Homo sapiens: one gene and its partners. The protein of the gene in region 1 purifies or fractionates together with the protein of each later gene. This does not show direct contact. Each region holds a gene or a part of one and is shown in the gene's direction. Other genes may lie near its edges. The genes, in order: RAB20, RAP1GDS1, TFCP2 and CHM.

Evidence for each region.
Region 2: the proteins of RAB20 (region 1) and RAP1GDS1 purify together in Homo sapiens (co-immunoprecipitation; 2 studies listed by BioGRID and IntAct, with this or other methods). This does not show direct contact.
Region 3: the proteins of RAB20 (region 1) and TFCP2 purify together in Homo sapiens (affinity purification with mass spectrometry; one large-scale study listed by BioGRID and IntAct). This does not show direct contact.
Region 4: the proteins of RAB20 (region 1) and CHM purify together in Homo sapiens (co-immunoprecipitation; 2 studies listed by BioGRID and IntAct, with this or other methods). This does not show direct contact.

What each region holds. Positions count from the first base shown.
Region 1 is NC_000013.11:110,551,297-110,555,866, reverse strand, and holds part of RAB20 (ras-related protein Rab-20), read left to right. Parts: intron 1-4,570. UniProt on the Homo sapiens protein: The small GTPases Rab are key regulators of intracellular membrane trafficking, from the formation of transport vesicles to their fusion with membranes.
Region 2 is NC_000004.12:98,264,043-98,268,612, forward strand, and holds part of RAP1GDS1 (rap1 GTPase-GDP dissociation stimulator 1), read left to right. Parts: intron 1-4,570. UniProt on the Homo sapiens protein: Acts as a GEF (guanine nucleotide exchange factor) for the Rho family of small GTP-binding proteins (G proteins) that stimulates the dissociation of GDP to enable subsequent binding of GTP.
Region 3 is NC_000012.12:51,117,227-51,121,796, reverse strand, and holds part of TFCP2 (alpha-globin transcription factor CP2), read left to right. Parts: intron 1-3,024; coding exon 3,025-3,176; intron 3,177-4,049; coding exon 4,050-4,126; intron 4,127-4,570.
Region 4 is NC_000023.11:86,036,792-86,041,361, reverse strand, and holds part of CHM (rab proteins geranylgeranyltransferase component A 1), read left to right. Parts: intron 1-4,570. UniProt on the Homo sapiens protein: Substrate-binding subunit of the Rab geranylgeranyltransferase (GGTase) complex.

The sequences.
Region 1 (4,570 bases):
AATAAATGGGGAGGCCACGGCGAGAGGAGGGAAGGCTGGGGGCACTCGCGGTGGCCGTGGTAAAGAGTGAGAATAAAAGTCGCCATCTGCCACCCAAGGGCTCAGCAACCTGGGAGACCTGGCCATATTGAATTTCTTCCTTTGCTGTTTGGAGTCGAGCAGGGGGCCGGCTGATGACTGGTTTCACCCGCAGAAGGCACAGGCTGATTCACGTTTGCGCTTCCGTGGCGTCCTCTGCCCAAGCTGCGAGGAAACAGTTCCTCTGTCTGTCTCAACTAGAAGTCTGAGCTTTGGCATGAGCCTTGCAGACCCCAATGTTCTTGGTGCCAGAACCCAAGGACGGGTGGACGGCAAAGATGTGGAAGAGAGATGGGCCCAGCCTCTGGCCTCTTTAGAGGATGCTGATGGCTGAGCCACCTGAGAAGGGATCAGGGTGCAATGGCCCTGGAATCTGTGTGACAAAAGGCAGGACTGAGAAAATGGGGGACTCTGTGGTGTGGAATGGAGAGGACTGGAGCCCCAGTCCCAGGAAGTTTTTGAGTGTTGGAAGGTTGTCACGTGGAAGAGGAATTCAAGCCTCATTTGAGTTCTATTCCGGCGCGTTAGAGTAGTTGGAGGTTTGTGGTGGGAGAGCAGGTGTGGCCTGTGTGTAACAGGACGGGCTGCCTCCGAAACTCGTGCTTCCAACACTTACAGTAATTGCCACTGTATGTGGGTCCCTGCCACGTGCCAGGCTCTGTGCAGGCTCCATACTCCCGGGCTACATCCTTTTCACAAGGCTCCTCCTGGGAGGCGTCAACGTTGCCGTCCTACAGACTGGGAAGCAGCATCTTACAGAGGGGAGGCGGCTCCCACAGTCGCTCCCTGACACGGTGCCAGGGCCGCTCAGCTTCACAGCTTGGTCTTCCTGCCCTTGGGAACCCAAGGTCTGGATGCTGCTTGGCTCAGGACCTAGAGTACGGGTTTCTCAGTGGATCAGGTCCCTCCCTCCCAAGCCGAAATGCAAGGATTTTTCAAGGAAAGGCTCGTGATGGGTTTAGGATCTCAGGTTCTCCAGGCCCTCTCTGGCCTCAGAGGTGCTGTGAACCCAGGCTGGGCTCTGCAGCAAATGAAGATGCTGCTTCGCTCATGCAGGCTCTTTCCTAAGCCCCAGGCAAGATTCTGAGCAATTGGTTTAAGAGCTTTCTCTTTACCTGAACAACTGCAGTGCAGCCCAGGAGAGGATGCTGGAGTTTCTGGTTATGAAATCTTGGGCCTGGAGGAGGGAGAATGTAAGTGCTCGTTCCCGTGAAGTTAGCTAAGAGATTGGCCTGCATGCTGTGAACTGCTGTCTGTCTGAGGCAGAGCCCAGGTGGCTTTTGTGAAGGACAAAGGTGGCTTGTGGGTGAAGGTGCCGAATGAGAGGGAGAGTTCAGCTCAGAGGACCGCGAGCCCCCACCTCTCTCCTTCCAGTCCACACACAAACCTCAGCCCCCAGCCACATGACAGCTGCTCCTAACGGAATGGGGTGGAGGCTGTGTCATATGTGTTGCTGCTTCAGGTTGGAATTGTGATGATGCTGTGGGTGGGCCTGGAGAGCAGCTCTCTTTGGCAGGGACCCCATGGCTGGCTGACATTCGGCACTTTTGACTTGTGTGAGGACTGCACATTTTTTAAAAGCCTTGAGAGATTGGTGCAAAAGTGAATGCACAGCCTGCAAAACACGTGGAGCCAGGGGGATTTTATTTATTTATATAATTATTTAATTTTTTTGAGACAAGGTCTTGGTCTGTTGTCCAGGCTGGAGTGCAGTGGGGTAACCACAGCTCACTGTAACTTCAAACTCCCAGGCTCAAGCAATCCTCCCACCTCAGCCTCCTGAGTAGCTGGGACCACAGGTGTGCACCCTTATTTAAAAAAACAATTTTTGTTTTTGTAGAGACGGGGTCTTGCTACATTGCCCAAGCTGGCCTTGAACTCCTGGGCTAAAGTGATCTTCCTACCTTGGCCTCCCAAAGTGCTGGCATTACAGGCATGAGCCACTGCGCCCAGCCAGGAGTCAGATTTTAGCTGGCTTTCCTATTACATTAGTTTCTATTTTAGCCTCAGTCGGGAGAGGCTTCTGAGTGGTTTTTGAGGCCTTAATATGGTGACCCTCAGCCTGACAATTAGTGTTTGTGTGACTGGAGACCATTTGGTCAATCACATGGTCTTTCTACAGATCTGGGGCCTGACGCAGGCCTGCTGCTGGTTGTTGTAAATAAAGTTTTATTGGCACAGCCACATGCACATGCATGCACTTAAATGCATTGTCTATGGCTGCTTTCACCTTGTAATGGCAGAGTTGAGTCATTGCAACAGAGACCAGACAGCACCGAAAGCCAAACATATTTACTATCTGGCCCTTTGCGGAAAACATTTGCTGATCCCTGGTTGGGTTGTGTAAAGGAGACAATGCTTCTCTAAAAGTCTGTTCCCATAGGTATAGACGCTTCTAAAAAGGTTTAATATTCAGCAGTTGTAGGACACCAAGATTCAGTTCAACTCAACAAGCAGCTCTCAAGTTTCTACTGTGTGTGTGTACTGAGCTAGAGTGGAGTGAGGGTGGATTTAAGATGAACACCAGCTCCTACTGAACAAAAGATCTTGGAAGAAATGCCAGTTAAGGTTTGTATCTGGAAGGTCAACCTGCAAAACCCCAGGCACATGTGGGTCCACATGGTCACCTCTACTGAGGACTTCGAACAGGTGCCTTCTGGGTGCAAGGCCTCATTTGTAGAGTCCCTCTGCTTTATTGACCAGCAACAGTGGCCTGAATATGAATGTGGGTATTAAGATGGGGGAAAGAGAATTAATTGGTTGTCCTGGCCTCAGCAGGAGTGGACAAAGCGACATTATACTCGGAGATTGCAGAGCACAGTGGCCGCTTGCGAGCAGTGTGCGCTGGGAGGCTCGGCCCACAGCCTCCTGGAGTGGCGCCTGGGAATCCTGGGGTGCCAGGGGACCTTGCAGGCTCTTTAGTGCACTGTGGTTCAGGAGAAACTTAATTAAGGTCAACTGTGTTTGTTAACGAGCACCTGAGTCACACTGAATGCCTTTGGGAGACAATTTCATGCTTTGTTATCTTTAAGCTCTCTGGAGAAATAGAAATTTTTATTTATTTATTTATTTATTTATTTATTTATTTATTTATTTGAGATGGAGTCTCACTCTGTCCCCCAGGCTGGAGTGCAGTGGCATGGTCTTGGCTCACTGCAAGCTCCGCCTCCTGGGTTCACGCCATTCTCCTGCCTCAGCCTCCTGAGTAGCTGGGACTACAGGCGCCCGCCACCGCGCCCAGCTAATTTTTTGTATTTTTAGTAGAGACGGGGTTTCACTATATTAGCCAGGATGGTCTCGATCTCCTGACCTTGTGATCCACCCGCCTCAGCCTCCCAAAGTGCTGGGATTACAGGCGTGAGCCACTGCGCCTGGCCCTATTTATTTATTTTTAATTTTTTTTTTTTTTTGAGACAGAGTCTCACTCTGTTGCCCAGGCTGGAGTGCACTGGCACGATCTCGGCTCACTGCAACCTCTGCCTCCTGGGTTCAAGTGATTCTCCTGCCTCAGCTTCCCGAGTAGCTGGGATTATGGGTGCCCACCACCATGCCCGGCTAATTTTTGTATTTTTAGTAGAGACAGGGTTTCACCATGTTGGTCAGGCGAGTCTTGAACTCCTGACCTCAAGCAATCCACCCACCGTGGCCTCCCAAAGTGTTGGGATTACAGGCGTGAGCTACCGCGCCCGTCTTATTTATTTATTTATTTTTTGAGACAGGGTCGTCTTCTGTCACCCAGACTAGAATGCAATGCTGTGATCTTGGCTCACTGCAGCTTTGACCTCGTGGGCTCAAGCAGTCCTCCCACCTCTCAGCTGGGACTACAGCACCACCACACCCAGCTAATTTTTGTATTTTTTTTTTTTTTTTGTAGAGACAGGGGTCTCAGTATGTTGCCCAGGCTGGTCTTGAACTCCTGGGCTCAAGATATCGTCCCTGCTTGTTCTCTTCAAGTGCCGAGATTACAGGCATGAGCTACCATGCCTGGCTGAAAATTTATGATGCCAGATCAAATTGCCCTTCTTTCTGTATTGAGACTTCATATAACATCCCTCTCCAAGAAAAATAAATTTTGTACAAACATACACACACGTACAAACACACACGCCTAAACAGCTGTTGATTCTTAGGATAATGGATTCATCACTGCGACGACAGAGTTCCATGGTCCAGCTGGCCGCGAACGCTGGCCCAGGCAGGTTCCAGCTTCGTTTCAACCCTGGCTTCCCTGGTGCTGTCTCTTCTGCACCTCACTGAGGGGTCTTTCTGCCAGGCCTCCTGGATCTGGTCACCTTCCCTGCTCAGAGCCCCTCCAGCACTCCCCAGCTTATCACTCCTCTTATCTGCCTGCTGGCACTTGAGCCCTGATGTACGATTTGCAGTTCGTCCTGTGTGCCCTGTCTTTGCTCGGTTCTCACAGGTGCTTACAGCGTCTCTGGCCATGCCCAGCTTGAATTTTATCCCATCTTTCAGTGAAGCATTTCTTGGTCTT
Region 2 (4,570 bases), on another chromosome or scaffold:
AAGGTATACTGGTTAATGATGAGGGGAGGGAGAAGTGCTTTTTAATTTGTCTCAAGAAATAAATAAGGTTGATTTTTAAAGATAGTCTCAGCCGGGCGCGCACTTTGGGAGGCCGAGGCGGGCGGATCACCTGAGGTCAGGAGTTGGAGACCAGCCTGACTAACATGGTAAAACCCTGTCTCTACTAAAAATACAAAAAAACAATTAGCCGGGTGTGGTGGCGGGCGCCTGTAATCCCAGCTGTTTGGGAGGCTGAGGCAGGAGAATCACTTGAACCCGGGAGGCGGAGTTTGCAGTGAGCCGAGATCATGCCATTGCACTCCAGCCTGGGCAACAAGAGGGAAACTCTGTCTCAAAAAAAATATATATATATATTCTCATGGCAATAATTTCCTACACAAGAGAGTGAAAGAAAAGTCCTATATAACTTTATGGCCATAGCTACTATTTTATGTATATGTCATATTTCAGATTCAACATACATTTAGTGTTTGTTGGATATCAACTGTGCAGTGTACTGTACTACAGTGTACTGGGAGGACAAAGATAAAAAGATATTCATGTTTCACATTTATAATCTTAGCAGGAACAATATGACACATACACAAATTATAATAGAAGTAAAAGTATAAGTTATATAAAAGACCTTTACATATATTATAGATTCAGAGAATGGAGAGAACGTTTTAGAGAAATGGTGTTATTTGAACCAAAGGTGGGTTAAACTTCTTAAAGGTAGAAATGAGACTGTTAATCAGAATGGAGTTGGTCTGGGGTTGGAAGAGAAATGACATAAATGAAGATAGATAGGAAACATTTTATGAATTTCCAGGATATGATTAAACAGCATTGTTTGGCTAGAGCAAAAGGTAAGGAAATAGTGGGTAACAGACATGAAAAAGTAGTACAGTAATAGCTAATGACCAGATAATGTAGGATCTAAAATGCCAAGCTGAAGAATTTTAATCTGACTTACCTATTGAGAGACCACTAAACATTTTTATGTAGTTAAGTGATGGATCACATCTGTGGTATAGGAAAATTTGTCAGTTGAGTGCAGGATCGATTAGATGAGAAACTACAGAACACTTCAGAAGATTGTTGTTGGAGTTTGGACGAAAATGTTTAATGGCTTGAACCAGGTTATGGCAACGGGAATAGAATATTGCAAATAAAGAATAGGATTTACTTGGCAACCCATTGAGTATGGAATTGAGAGTCACAGGTTTTAGCCTGGGTGATAATGAGGATACGAGAATCTCCTGATACATATTCAGTTAACAGGAAGAGGAAACTTAGATACTCAATTTTGGACCTATTGCATTAGACTTTTTGGTCTGTCCTTTAGTCTCTGCTCCTTGATAACAAGGACGTTGTCATATTAGGATTTGAATACATTTCTAACACTAGTGTCTGGCACATAGTAGCTACATAGAAAAATTGTGTTGACTGACTGAAACTAGATAAAAAATAGTTGACAAACATTTATTTTAACTTTCGAGAGTACAATTTGAATTAGAGATCTGGAAGTTATCCACAAATATCCTGAGGTGATATTTGAAGTTAGATCAGAGGACAAGAGTCAACAAAGAAAAAGAGGAAAATTGTTCATGGTAAGAATCTTGAGGAATGGGGTTCCTTAAGTTTTCCGTAGTTAGGGAAAAAGGAATGGTATGATTTCACACTGAAAAACACAGAAGTCAGAGTGAAAGACTAGAATTGGTATATGGTTGGTTTTAAGAAAGAGTGAATAGTTAATAAGGTCTGTTTTTTCAGAACAGTCAGGAGGGTGATAGGGACTGAGAACAGGCTCTAAGTGCTTTGGTTAGGATATTACCCAGTATATTTTTCTAAAAAGCCACTTTAAGAGGTTTAGTAGATATGGAGGTCAGTTGTAAAGGCTAAGTGAATAATAAGTGGAAACAGTTCACTAGGTATAGTCATGCTGTATTTCTCACCTTGTTTAAAGATCTGTGAGAAAACATAGATTTTTAAAAATATTTTTAACTCACTCTGCATGACAGATATTACATTTTAGAAAATATTTTAAAATTTTAAATGTATTTTAATTTACAAATTAAAAAAATTATTTTAATGTTACATTTTACATGGAAGGACATGTGCTGTTTTCATGTCTAAGGATAATTTTTAATTTCACCATAGTGCCTCACATTTCTCTGACATTTCATTTTTAATGTCTTTGTGACTTAGTATAGTACAATTTTTATTTTTATAATGTCTGTCATGCAGAGTGAGTCTAGAATGATTTTATAATTTTGCATGGCATTTTGCCTAAACAATACTCTTTACTGATGAATGGTTTTATCACTTTTACTCTTAGACTTTGTGAATTTGAGACTTCTTTAGATTATAGGTATGCTTCTAATTATATTTTTAATTCCTGGAGTTGTAGTTTTCTCTGTAGATAGGTATCAAACTTATAGTCATTTTATTTTGCCTGTATTTCCAAGTCCAGGAATGGTTTTCATAGCTAAATAATAAATACTAATTTTGCCTGATCTTTGCAAGTCTAGGCAGGGTGATAAAATATTTTTGAAAGCTGGTAATTACTAAAATTTATGATTTCAAAAAAGCATAGATGCTAGCTTGGTAAATTTAAAAATTTTTCTTATGTTGGCATTATATCTGTTTTGTATATGTCTTTTTTCATATGGGAGAAAGGTTGAATTCACTATCCTTGGTAGTCATATTCTGAAGTCTGTACTACTACTATTTGAAAAATTATAATAGCCTTAACTCTTTTTAAGAACCAAAATGATTTTGCTTTCATAGTGGAATCTTGGAATTTCTAGGTGACTTTGGGGAAATAGTGTGGATGCTCTCCAGAAATTCCTGATTGAACCTGAGATTGAACATAGCAATTCTGGAGTTATTGGTGGCACTAACAACAGCCATCAGAATTACCTAAATTTTAATATCCAGTCATGAACATCAGGAGGAATGAAGGAGGAAGATTCAGTCCTTTGGGAACCTGATGTAATTTTAGATAGCCAAATGTTTGGATAACTGATAAGGAAAAAGTTTAATTTAAAATACATGTTGATGTTGAGTTCAGTTTGCCAGTATTTTGTTGAGGATTTTTCTATTTATGTTTATTAAGGATATTAGCTTGTAGTTTCTTTTCTTGTAGTATCATTGTCTGGCTTTGGTATCAGGGTAATGCTGGCCTCATTAAATGAGTTTGGAAGTATTTCCCTTCATTGTTTGGAAAGAGTTTGAGGAGGATTGGTATTAGTTCCTTTTTTAAAATAATTTCAACTTTTAGTTTAGGTTCAGAGGGTACATGTGCATGTTTTTTACATGGGCATGTTATGTGACACTTTGGAGTATGAATAATCCCATCACCCAGGGGTTTGGAGTATGAATAATCCCATCACCCAGGTAGTGTGCATGGTACCCAGTGGGTAGTTTTTCAGCCCTTGCCTCCCTCCATTTGTCCCCCTCTAGTAGTCCCCAGTATCTGTTGTTCCCATCTTTATGTCCATATGTACACCCAGTGCTTAGCTTCCGCTTATAAATGAGAACATGTGGTATTTGGATTTCTTGTTTCTATGTTAATTTGCTTAGGATAGTGGCCTCCAGCTCCATCCATGTTGCTGCAAAGGACATGATTTCATTCTTTTTTGTGGGTGCATAGTATTCCATGGTATATATGTGTCACATTTTCTTTATCCAATCCACTATTGATAGGCACCTGGGTTGTTTTCATGTCTTTGTTATTGTGAATAGTGCTGCGATGAAGATCCAAGAGCATGTGCCTTTTTGGTAGCATGATTTATTTTTCTCTGGAAATATACCCAGTAATGGGATGGCTGGGTCAAATGGTAGTTCTGTTTTAAGTTCGTCGAGAAGTCTCCAAATTGCGTTCCACAGTGTCTGAACTAATTTATATTTCCACTAACAGTGTAAAAACATTCTCTTTTCTCCACAGCCTTACAGCATCTGTTTTTTGTTTGTTTGTTTTTACTTTTTAATAATAGCCATTCTGACTGGTGTGAAATGGTGTCTCATTGTGGTTTGATTTGCAGTCTCATCACATTAAGAGGATCATACGTCATGATCAAGTGGGATTTATCCCTGGGATGCAAGAATGGTTGAACATACACAAATCAATAAATGTGATACACCACGTTAACAGAATGAAGAACAAAAATCATACGATCATCTCAGTTGATGCAGAAAAAGCATTTGACAAAATTCAACATACTTTCATTTTTAAAACTCTCAACAAATTTGGTGTAGAATGAATATGCCTAAACATAGTAAAGGTCCTATATGACAAGCCCATAGCTAACATCATACTTAATGGTGAAAATCTGAAAAGTTTATCTCAGATTGAGAAAAAAAACAAGGATGCCCACTCTTGCCACTGCTATTTAAGATAGTACTAGAAGTCCTAGCAGAGCAAATAGACAAGAAAAAGAAATTAAAAAGCATTCAAATTGGAGAGTAAAATGATCTGTTTAAAGATAGCATGGTCTTATACATAGAAAGCCTTAAAGACTCCTTGAAAAAAAAGACAAAAACTATTAGTCCTAATAAATGAATT
Region 3 (4,570 bases), on another chromosome or scaffold:
TGAACATGGGGAATGTTAACAAGAATCATTGGGCTGGGTGTGGTGGCTCATGCCTATAATCATAGTACTTTGGGAGGCTGAGGTGGGCAGATCACTTGAGGTCAGGAGTTTGAGACCAGCCTGGCCAACATGGTGAGACCTCGTCTCTACTAAAAATACAAAAGTTAGTCGGGTGTGGTGGCGTGTGCATGTAGTCCCAGCTACTTGGGAGTCTGAGGCAGGAGAGTCACTTGAACCCGGGAGGTGGAGGTTGCAGTGAGCCGAGATCGTGCCACTGCACTCAAGCCTGGGAGACAGAGTGAGACTGTCTTAAAAAAAAAAAAAAAATCACTGGATTCCTGACTTCTGATCTTTTGGGGGAATATTTTTTTTTCTTTTGAGATGGAGTCTCGCTCTGTCTCCCGGGCTTCAGTGCAGTGGTACGATCTTGGCTCACTGCAACCTCCACCTCCCAGGTTCAAGCAATTCTCCTGCCTCAGCCTCCCAAGTAGCTGGGACTAGGCGCGCGCCAACGCGCCCGGCTAATTTTTGTACTTTTAGTGGAGACGGGGTTTTACCATGCTAGCCAGGCTGGTCTCAAACTCCTGACCTCAAGTGATCTGCCCCCCTTGGCCTCCCAAAGTGCTGGGATTACAGGCATGAGCCATACCGTGCCTAGCCAAGGGAATCTTAATTGTTTCTTTTATTTCATGTACCCTGTTCCTTTTCTTTTGTACCCAGAAGTACTCTGTGGCCTATATATATTTTTTCTTTTTTAAAAAAAACTTTACTGTGGAAAATTTCAAACATATACAAAGTAAACAGAATAATATGATGAACCCTCTTGTACTCATCACCTTGCTTTAACATGTTACTACTCTTTTTACCTTTTTTTTTTTTTTTTTTTTGAGACACAGTCTCGCTATGTCGCCCAGGCTGGAGTGCAGTGGCACAATCTCGGCTCAAGTGATTCTCGTGCCTCAGCCTCTGACATAGCTGGGATTACAGATGTGTGTCTCCACACCCATCTAATTTTTGTATTTTTATTAATAGTAGAGATGGGGTTTCACCATGTTGGCCAAGCTGGTCTTGAACTCCTGGCCTCAAGTGATCTGCCTGCCTTGGCCTCCCAAAGTGCTGGAATTACAGCCGTGAGCCACCACACCTAGCCCTCTTTTATTATTTTTACTTCTACCTATTCCCCATCCTCTAATCAATAATTTTTTTTTTAGGTAAAATTCATATACAATGAGATGCAAAAATAAGCTGTTACAGTTACAACCACGTAGCAGACCTATCATAGTATAATACATTTTTATCTCCCTACAAAGTTCCCTTATATACCTTCCAAGTCATCCCCTGCCCCACCAGGAAACCATTGTTCTCTTTGGCTCTGCCTGTTTTAGACTGTCATATAAACAGAACCATGCATTACACATTCTTTGTGTCCGGCTTTTTTTGTCGAGCATTATATCTGTGAGATTCATCCGTGTTGCATTCCTTTGTTTCACTGAGTAGTCCATTGTATGGATATACCATGGTTTGTACATCCGTTCTCTTACTCATGAACATTTAGGTTCTTTCCAGTTTTTATTTTTTTGTTGTTGTTGTTGTTCTTTTTTTTTTTTTTTTTTTTTTTTGAGACAGAGTCTTGCTTTGTTGCCCAGGCTGGAGTGCAGTGCCACGATCTCGGCTCACTGCACCTCTGCCTCCTGAGGTCAAGTGATTCTCCTGCCTCAGCCTCCCAAGTATCTGGGACCACAGGCATGCGCCACCACACCCAGCTAATTTTTGTAATTTTGGTAGAGACAGGGTTTCACCATGTTGGCCAGGCTGGTCTCAAACTCCTGACCTCAGGTGATCCACCCGCCTCGGCCTCCCGAAGTGCTGGGATTACAGGCGTGAGCACCTGGCCTAGTTTTTGCTTTTATGCTGTGAACATTTATAACAAGTCTTGGGTGGACTTACATTTTCATTTTTCTTGGATAAGTACCAATGGGTGGAATTGCTGGGTCAATAGATGCATGGTTAATTTAATTTAATTTTTTTAATTAATTTTTTTTTTTTGAGATGGAGTTTCGCCTTTGTTGCCCAGGCTGGAGTGCAGTGGCACCATCTCGGCTCACTACAACCTCCACCTCCCGGGTTCAAGCAGTTCTCCTGCCTCAGCCTCTTGAGTAGCTGGGATTACAGGCATGCGCCACCACTCCCAGCTAGGTTTGTATTTTTAGTAGAGACAGGGTTTCGCCATGTTGGTCAGGCGGGTTTCCACCTCCGGACCTCAGGTGATCCGCCCACCTCGGCCTCCCAAATTGCTGGGATTACAGGCATGAGCCACTGTGCCTGACTGCATGTTTAATTTTATAAAAAACTGCCAAACCTTTTCCTAAACTGTTTTATGTCATTGTACATTGCTACTGACAAAAGGATGAGAGTGTGGTTTTACATTCCCACTGACAAAGGATGGGTATGTGTCTTTGGTTTGCAAGTTTAGATAAACTGATAGATACAAAAAGCTTTTTCTTAGAGGAAATGGCTTGTAGGAACATCTCAATATTAGTTGTTATTCCACAGAATGTAAGATGACCTTGAAATATATACTCGTTATTGATTTGTCCTTTTCACGTGGCTTCTAAGGAATTGTAGAAGTTATTTTAGTCCTTATAGTAAATCAGCTGATATGGTTATATAGATAGTATAGTTGTTGCCTTTCTGAGAATGAAGACGTTACTGAATGTCCTAGATTTATACATTTTAGAACTCTGTTTATAATTTCCACAGTCCTTTTAGGAACCCCTGTCTATGATTCCTAGAAACATTCTCTTTAACACTTAGTGGTTTTAGCAGTGAATATCTGTCATCACCCACACTGTTGTGGTCAGGGGGATATCACAGCAGGTAATCTAAATGGAATTCTTGGGATGAAACTCCACCAAGGTGAGTAATGTTTATGGCTTTCCAAAGCATTGCAGTTAAATCATTCAGCAATAAACCTGCGTTTGCACCATTGCCAGGTATTAATGTGAGTCATTTGTTTTATTTTAGTGATGTCCTTGCATTGCCCATTTTTAAGCAAGAAGAGTCGAGTTTGCCTCCTGATAATGAGAATAAAATCCTGCCTTTTCAATATGTGCTTTGTGCTGCTACCTCTCCAGCAGTGAAACTCCATGATGAAACCCTAACGTATCTCAATCAAGGTTAGATGCTTCCTCATTCATTAGTACTATTGCAGACCTACTGTATTTATGATTTTTTTGTTTGTTTGTTTGTTTTGAGACGGCGTCACCCAGGCTGGAGTGTAGTGGCGCCATCTTGGCTCACTGCAAGCTCTGCCTCCCGGGTTCACACCATTCTCCTGCCTCAGCCTCCTGAGTAGCTGGGACCACAGGCACCCGCCACCACACCCGGCTAATTTTTTTGTATTTTTAGTAGAGATAGGGTTTCATCGTGTTAGCCAGGATGGTCTCGATCTCCTGACCTCATGATCCGCCTGCCTTGGCCTCCCAAAGTGCTGGGATTACAGGCGTGAGCCACCGTGCCCGGCCATTTATGATGTTTTATTAGGTACACTTATATGTAAAAACTTAGATCTTTCTAGTGTGGCCTATCAAACTAGAAGTCCTACTTCAGAGATTTGAGTTCTAATGTCATACTTGATATCTATTACTAGCTTCTTTTGCTTAGCTGTCCATTTTTAGTGTCCAGCTTCCTCTTCCTAATCATATTCCCTAGACACTCCCATTGGTTACTGTCTGAGAAGTATTACTCTACCTGGCTCTATTATTTACCAATTGTGTGGCCTTGGACAAGTTGCTAAAACTCTTTTAAGTTTCAATTTCTTTGTCTGTAAAATGGGATTGATAATACCTTAGAAAAGTATATCAGTTAAATGAGATAATGTGACAATACTTAGCACAGTGCTGAGCATCTTGTAAAGGCTTCTGATTGTTGTTACTAATACTAATAATATTATTATACTGTTGTATATTCAACCAACTGAATTTTATTCTTTCCGAATCTAGCAAAGTTAATTTGTGGTGAATATAATATGTAATTACTTTTTCTTCTAGGACAGTCTTATGAAATTCGAATGCTAGACAATAGGAAACTTGGAGAACTTCCAGAAATTAATGGCAAATTGGTGAAGGTAAAACGAATAAATCATTCTTCTGTACAATATTTTTTACTAATCCTTTTGGGATTTTAAATTTTGTTGTTGTTGTTAATGTTCTTTTGCTTCCAATGGCTTAATGGTATCTCTTGCCTGCAGTAATTTGTTGGCAGAGTAGTAAGCTGATGTGTTATTTCTTTGGGGTCAGAGTAAGCCCCAGTATTCACATGAATTTTTCAGAGCTGCAGAAATAGAACGCTTACCACTCCCTGTCCAGGGTAATCACCCCTGGCTCAGTGAAGTTCTTTTGGGTGGAGTAAAGTAACCTCCTTGAGATCTTTAGAGAAGCCTCAGTGTCTTTTTTGATACTTAGTCTTATAGCAAGGAAAACAGAAGCTACTTTGATGAAGAGCAGTTCTCTTAGTCTAGATTAACAGTTAGGATTTTGATAATTCACAGCACAGTTGAAACAGAGGAGTT
Region 4 (4,570 bases), on another chromosome or scaffold:
GATGGAAAAGTATGTTTTTGTTTGCTTCCAATACCTAGAAAAGTAAAGAGTTATCTAACTCTGGAGAAGACTCTCTGGGAGATGCTTACCCTTCTCTGTAAATCATGAATTTGAGCCAATACCTCAGAGAGAGCCACATCTGTTGCCATAATTTCCTCTGCAGCATCATTTTCATCTCCCATGCCTCATGTCATTTTTCTCATTTTCTCCAGTGTTTTCATGATGTTTTGGATAACAGGCTACAGTAATTAAATTCAAATATGGCAGCCCACCATTACATTCTCATGTTTAACATAAAATCCCAATGCACAGAAACAATTATAATTCCATATAATTGACCTGTTAACTCATGCTAAATCATCTGCTATTCAGTCTCAGTGCATTCTTTAACTAAAAAGTTAGTCTGTGCCTGTTCTGTATATAAATATATTTAAAAGTAAAATAGGCTAAAAATCACTGTTGGTGCTCATTGGAAACATTTTGGGGGCGTTTAGTTGTGGCCAGCAAAATAGGGATACATTGAAAGGTTGATGTTTTGTTTTTGCTTTTCTAATAATTTCATTTAAGGTTTGGTGTAAAAAGAGTTGATAATTTATCACAGATACTGCTTTTTTAGAGCATGATTATGAGAGCTAGCATGTTATCATATTGAGGGTGTTTTTGAAAAGAACAGTTTGCAAACAGACAGGAGAAGAGACCAGAGGCAGCTTGGCCAGTATGGTGCTTAAATAAGTGTTTCATCTCATACTGGATTTTATCAGGAGCTGAAGTTGGTAATGTATTCCTTGACTGATTTGGTTTTTATCACATTTTAAAAAGTACTGGTGAAGCAGGATATTTTCCTGACCCCTTCATGGGACTTGTGAAGGGAGCACCCTGTTTACTCAGCCCACCGCTTTCAACTCCTCATAGGAGGGAGCACGTGAGTGAACAAGGCAGGAACTGGAATACATGAGTGCTGGAGTCAGCCTGCCGCTCTTGTGCCAGGAGGAATGAACTCCACTCACTCGGACCTGCTGTGTTTCACCCCTCACAAGAGGGGATGTGCAGTTGAGTGGGTGCAGGAGCCGGGGCGAGTGCTTTTGGGCACTGGCAGGAGTCAACTCTGTGCTGGCCCTGTGGTAGCATCTCCGGGGGTGGTGCCTGCAACCCCTGAAGCTCCAGAGGGAATGTTACAGTGCTCTTTTAGCTCTGCTGTCCGCAGACGGCTTAAGGGTTAACAGCTCAGTGGGCCCTCTGCCTTTTTGTGTTAATCGGCTGCCTTCTACCAGTGAGGGCAAAGGGCAAGTGTGACAGCCTTTTTGTGTCCACACTCATCGTTCCCGAGCTCTTGTCCGGCATCCAGGAGAAATGAGGTCACATGAATGAATTGAAGGATGGTAAATGTAGGGGATCTTATTGCTGATGGAGATGGCTCTTAGTGGGAAGGGGAGCTGCAAAGGGCAGGAAGGTAGTCTTCCCCTGAATGCCAGCTGTCTCTGGCCAGATTCTTCTTCGAAGTTACGCTGTCAAGGTGTCCCTCTGAAGTCGAGCCACTTCTCTCTGATGTCCAGCTGTAGTCTCTAATGTCCAACTGCTTCTCTTCTCTCTGCTGGCTGAGCCTGGGGTTTTTATGTACACAGGATGGGGTGTGGGGTGGGCCGTAAGTGGTTTCGGAAAAGGCAACATTCGCACGGGAAAATGGGGATATAAGTTCTCACTTTGCGTCATGGTTTCAGGCTTGAGGGTGGGGTTTTCTCAGGGACCTGCCCTTTTCTGCCTAGAATTTCCCTGCCTCCTGTCCCTGTCACTCACTAACTTCTACTCTTTCTTTTGAGTATTCTCACCTGTCTTTTTTTTTTTTTTTTTTTTGGTCTAGGCCAGTGTTCTCATTGAGTTATTATGGCTACTAGTTAATGGTGGTTTTAATCATTTTATATTGCTTTGAAATGTTTTGAATCATGTTTCTGTGATCTGACTTTGCACATTTGTTAAACTAGTCTTATTTATGTGGATTTAAAATCATCATGAGAAAATTTACACAAGCTAAAGTATAGAGAAAAAGTTTTACACATGGATATGAGGCATATTAAGAAGATGCTGAGCTGTGAGTTCAAATCCTTATTTTCTACACCTGTGTTACTTTGGTTTAAGCTATGTAAGCAAAATCAATGATAATTAGAAAATTGTTTTTAGTACCTACAACACACTGTCAAACACATGAAAAATATTGTCTAACATTTGTTATATGCCAAGCACGGTGATAAGCCCCTACAATGCATTGTCTCATTTTCACAGTAACCCTGCAGTAGATACTATATCATCTCCATTTTTCAAATGTGAAGCCTGAGGCTCAGCTAAGTTTGATGTAGGTGAAACAGTTAAGACGAAAGTTTTTCTGACTAAGGTTGAGGTATTAGATTAAGTTTGCTAGAATCTTTCAATTGAAAAAATAGCTCATAGTATCAAGATGAGATTATTTTAACCTGGGTTTGTGGTTGGCAGTTGTTTTATTTTGGAGAGTTATCATTGTTGACATTAAAATCCTGATTCCAGCAGTAACCTCATGATGTCAGCTTCTTATTATTGACAGCATCATGACATCTGTGTCAGCTTGCAAACCTTCTTTTGATGAAGGTGAACGGAATGACCTGGTTGTGTTTATCCCTTAAAACTGAAGAGAGAATCAACCACTAAAGCAATGGCCAGAAATGGGATCAGAGATTACAGTTACATTTTAAGAAATGATTTGCTTCAGTAGGAATTCTTCATTGATCCTGTAAACCAAAATAATTTAGATTACCAAATTAATTTAGAAAGTTTATTTTACCAAGGTTAAGGATGCACCTGTGGCACAGCCTCAGGTCCTGATGACGTGCCCCAGGCGGTAGGGGCACAGCTTGATTTTACATGTTTTAGGGAGACATGAAACATTAATCAACGTTTGTAAGATGTATAATTCATTGGTTCCATCAGGAAAGGCCAGACAACTCGAAGTGGGGAGGAGGCTTCTGGGTCATAGTTAGTTAAGAGACAAATGAGGAATAGTCACTTATGCCTTAGTCTGTAGTGAAACAGTAGGGCGGAGGAAGCCATCAGATACGCATTTGTCTCATGGGAACAGAGGAATGACTTTGAGTTCTGCCTGTCCTTTGGTTGTCCACAAGGAATTTCCTTATGGGCAAATTGTGAGGGAGGTATGTAGCTTTTTAAAAATCTTTGTAGTGATCTTATTTAGGAATAGAAAGGGAGAGAGGTTTGCCCAACACAATTCCCAACTTGACTTTTCCTTTTGGTTTAGTGATTTTGGGGAGATTTGTTTTCCTTTCACAATCCCAAGGTACATAATTTCCCACTGAAATACTTGTGCATGTGCTGGGGTTTGCCATTTTGTGTCTTTTTTAGTGTTCTTCCAAATTAAATTTTCAAGATCAAATATGGGACTCATTGTCCTGTTTATGGAGCTTTTTTTCTTTTGGTTGACTATTCTTTTGTTTCCTACAGTCTTCAACAACTGTTAGTGCTTACAATGGATACATCATGCATCTTAATTGATAGGATGGATATGATAATACCTTTTTTGGTCCAAGGTCCCGCTCATTAAAAAAAATAGTTTATAAAGCTGAAAAGTTTTTATTTCTATTTTTTGTAAAATGATTTTCATGATAGGATTTTATATAAAGGGGAAGGGTTTTTTGTATCATTTTTATAACATTTTTGAAATGAATACTTATTCTCTTTCATCATCTATTTTAGACTCACAGTTTTATGAGTAATGCAGTAAAGGTCATGTGGCACATTAGTAAAATATGTTCTGAACACAGAAACTATTCTCCTTATCACAAATTAAATTTTATGTTAAGTTTGAAGAGCACTGGCCTGGGGTATACTTTGCTGTGAAAAGATCATTTTGGTCACTTAAATTACAATAGAAATATTTGTGTTAAGAAAATTAAGTAAAAATTAGGCTGGGCACAGTGGCTCACACCTGTAATTCCAGGACTTTGGGAGGCCTAGGCAAGTGGATCACCTGAGGTCAGGAGTTCAAGACCAGCCCAACCAACACAGTGAAACCCTGTCTGTACTAAAAATACAAAAATTATCCAGGCGTAGTGGCAGGAGCCTGTAATCCCAGCTCCTTGGGAAGCTGAGGCAGGAGAATCGCTTGAACCCGGGAGGCGGAGGTTGCAGTGAGCCGAGACTGTGCCACTGTACCCCAGCCTGGGTGACAAGAGTGAAACTCTGTCTCAAAAAAAAAAAAAAAAAAAAAAAGGAAAAATTAGTTGTAGTGGAGATTATTTCCTGGCAAGGATAAGGTCTTCAGCAAACATTTATATTTATTTAACAAAACTTCAAGAGATTTTGAGTTGATGTAGTTTTCTCCATTTAGATAAAAAACAGGATGCTACGTCCATTTTTAAGCTTTTTACAATGGAAAATTTCAAACATAAAAAAGTAGAATAAAGTAACCCTCCACATACCAGACTCCCAGTTTCAACAGTTATCAACTCATGGCCAGTCTTGTTTTCTCTGTAATGAGGACTAAGCTCTGATTTTTTATCTTGCCCAAATTCCTACCTAAGGGGTCTAG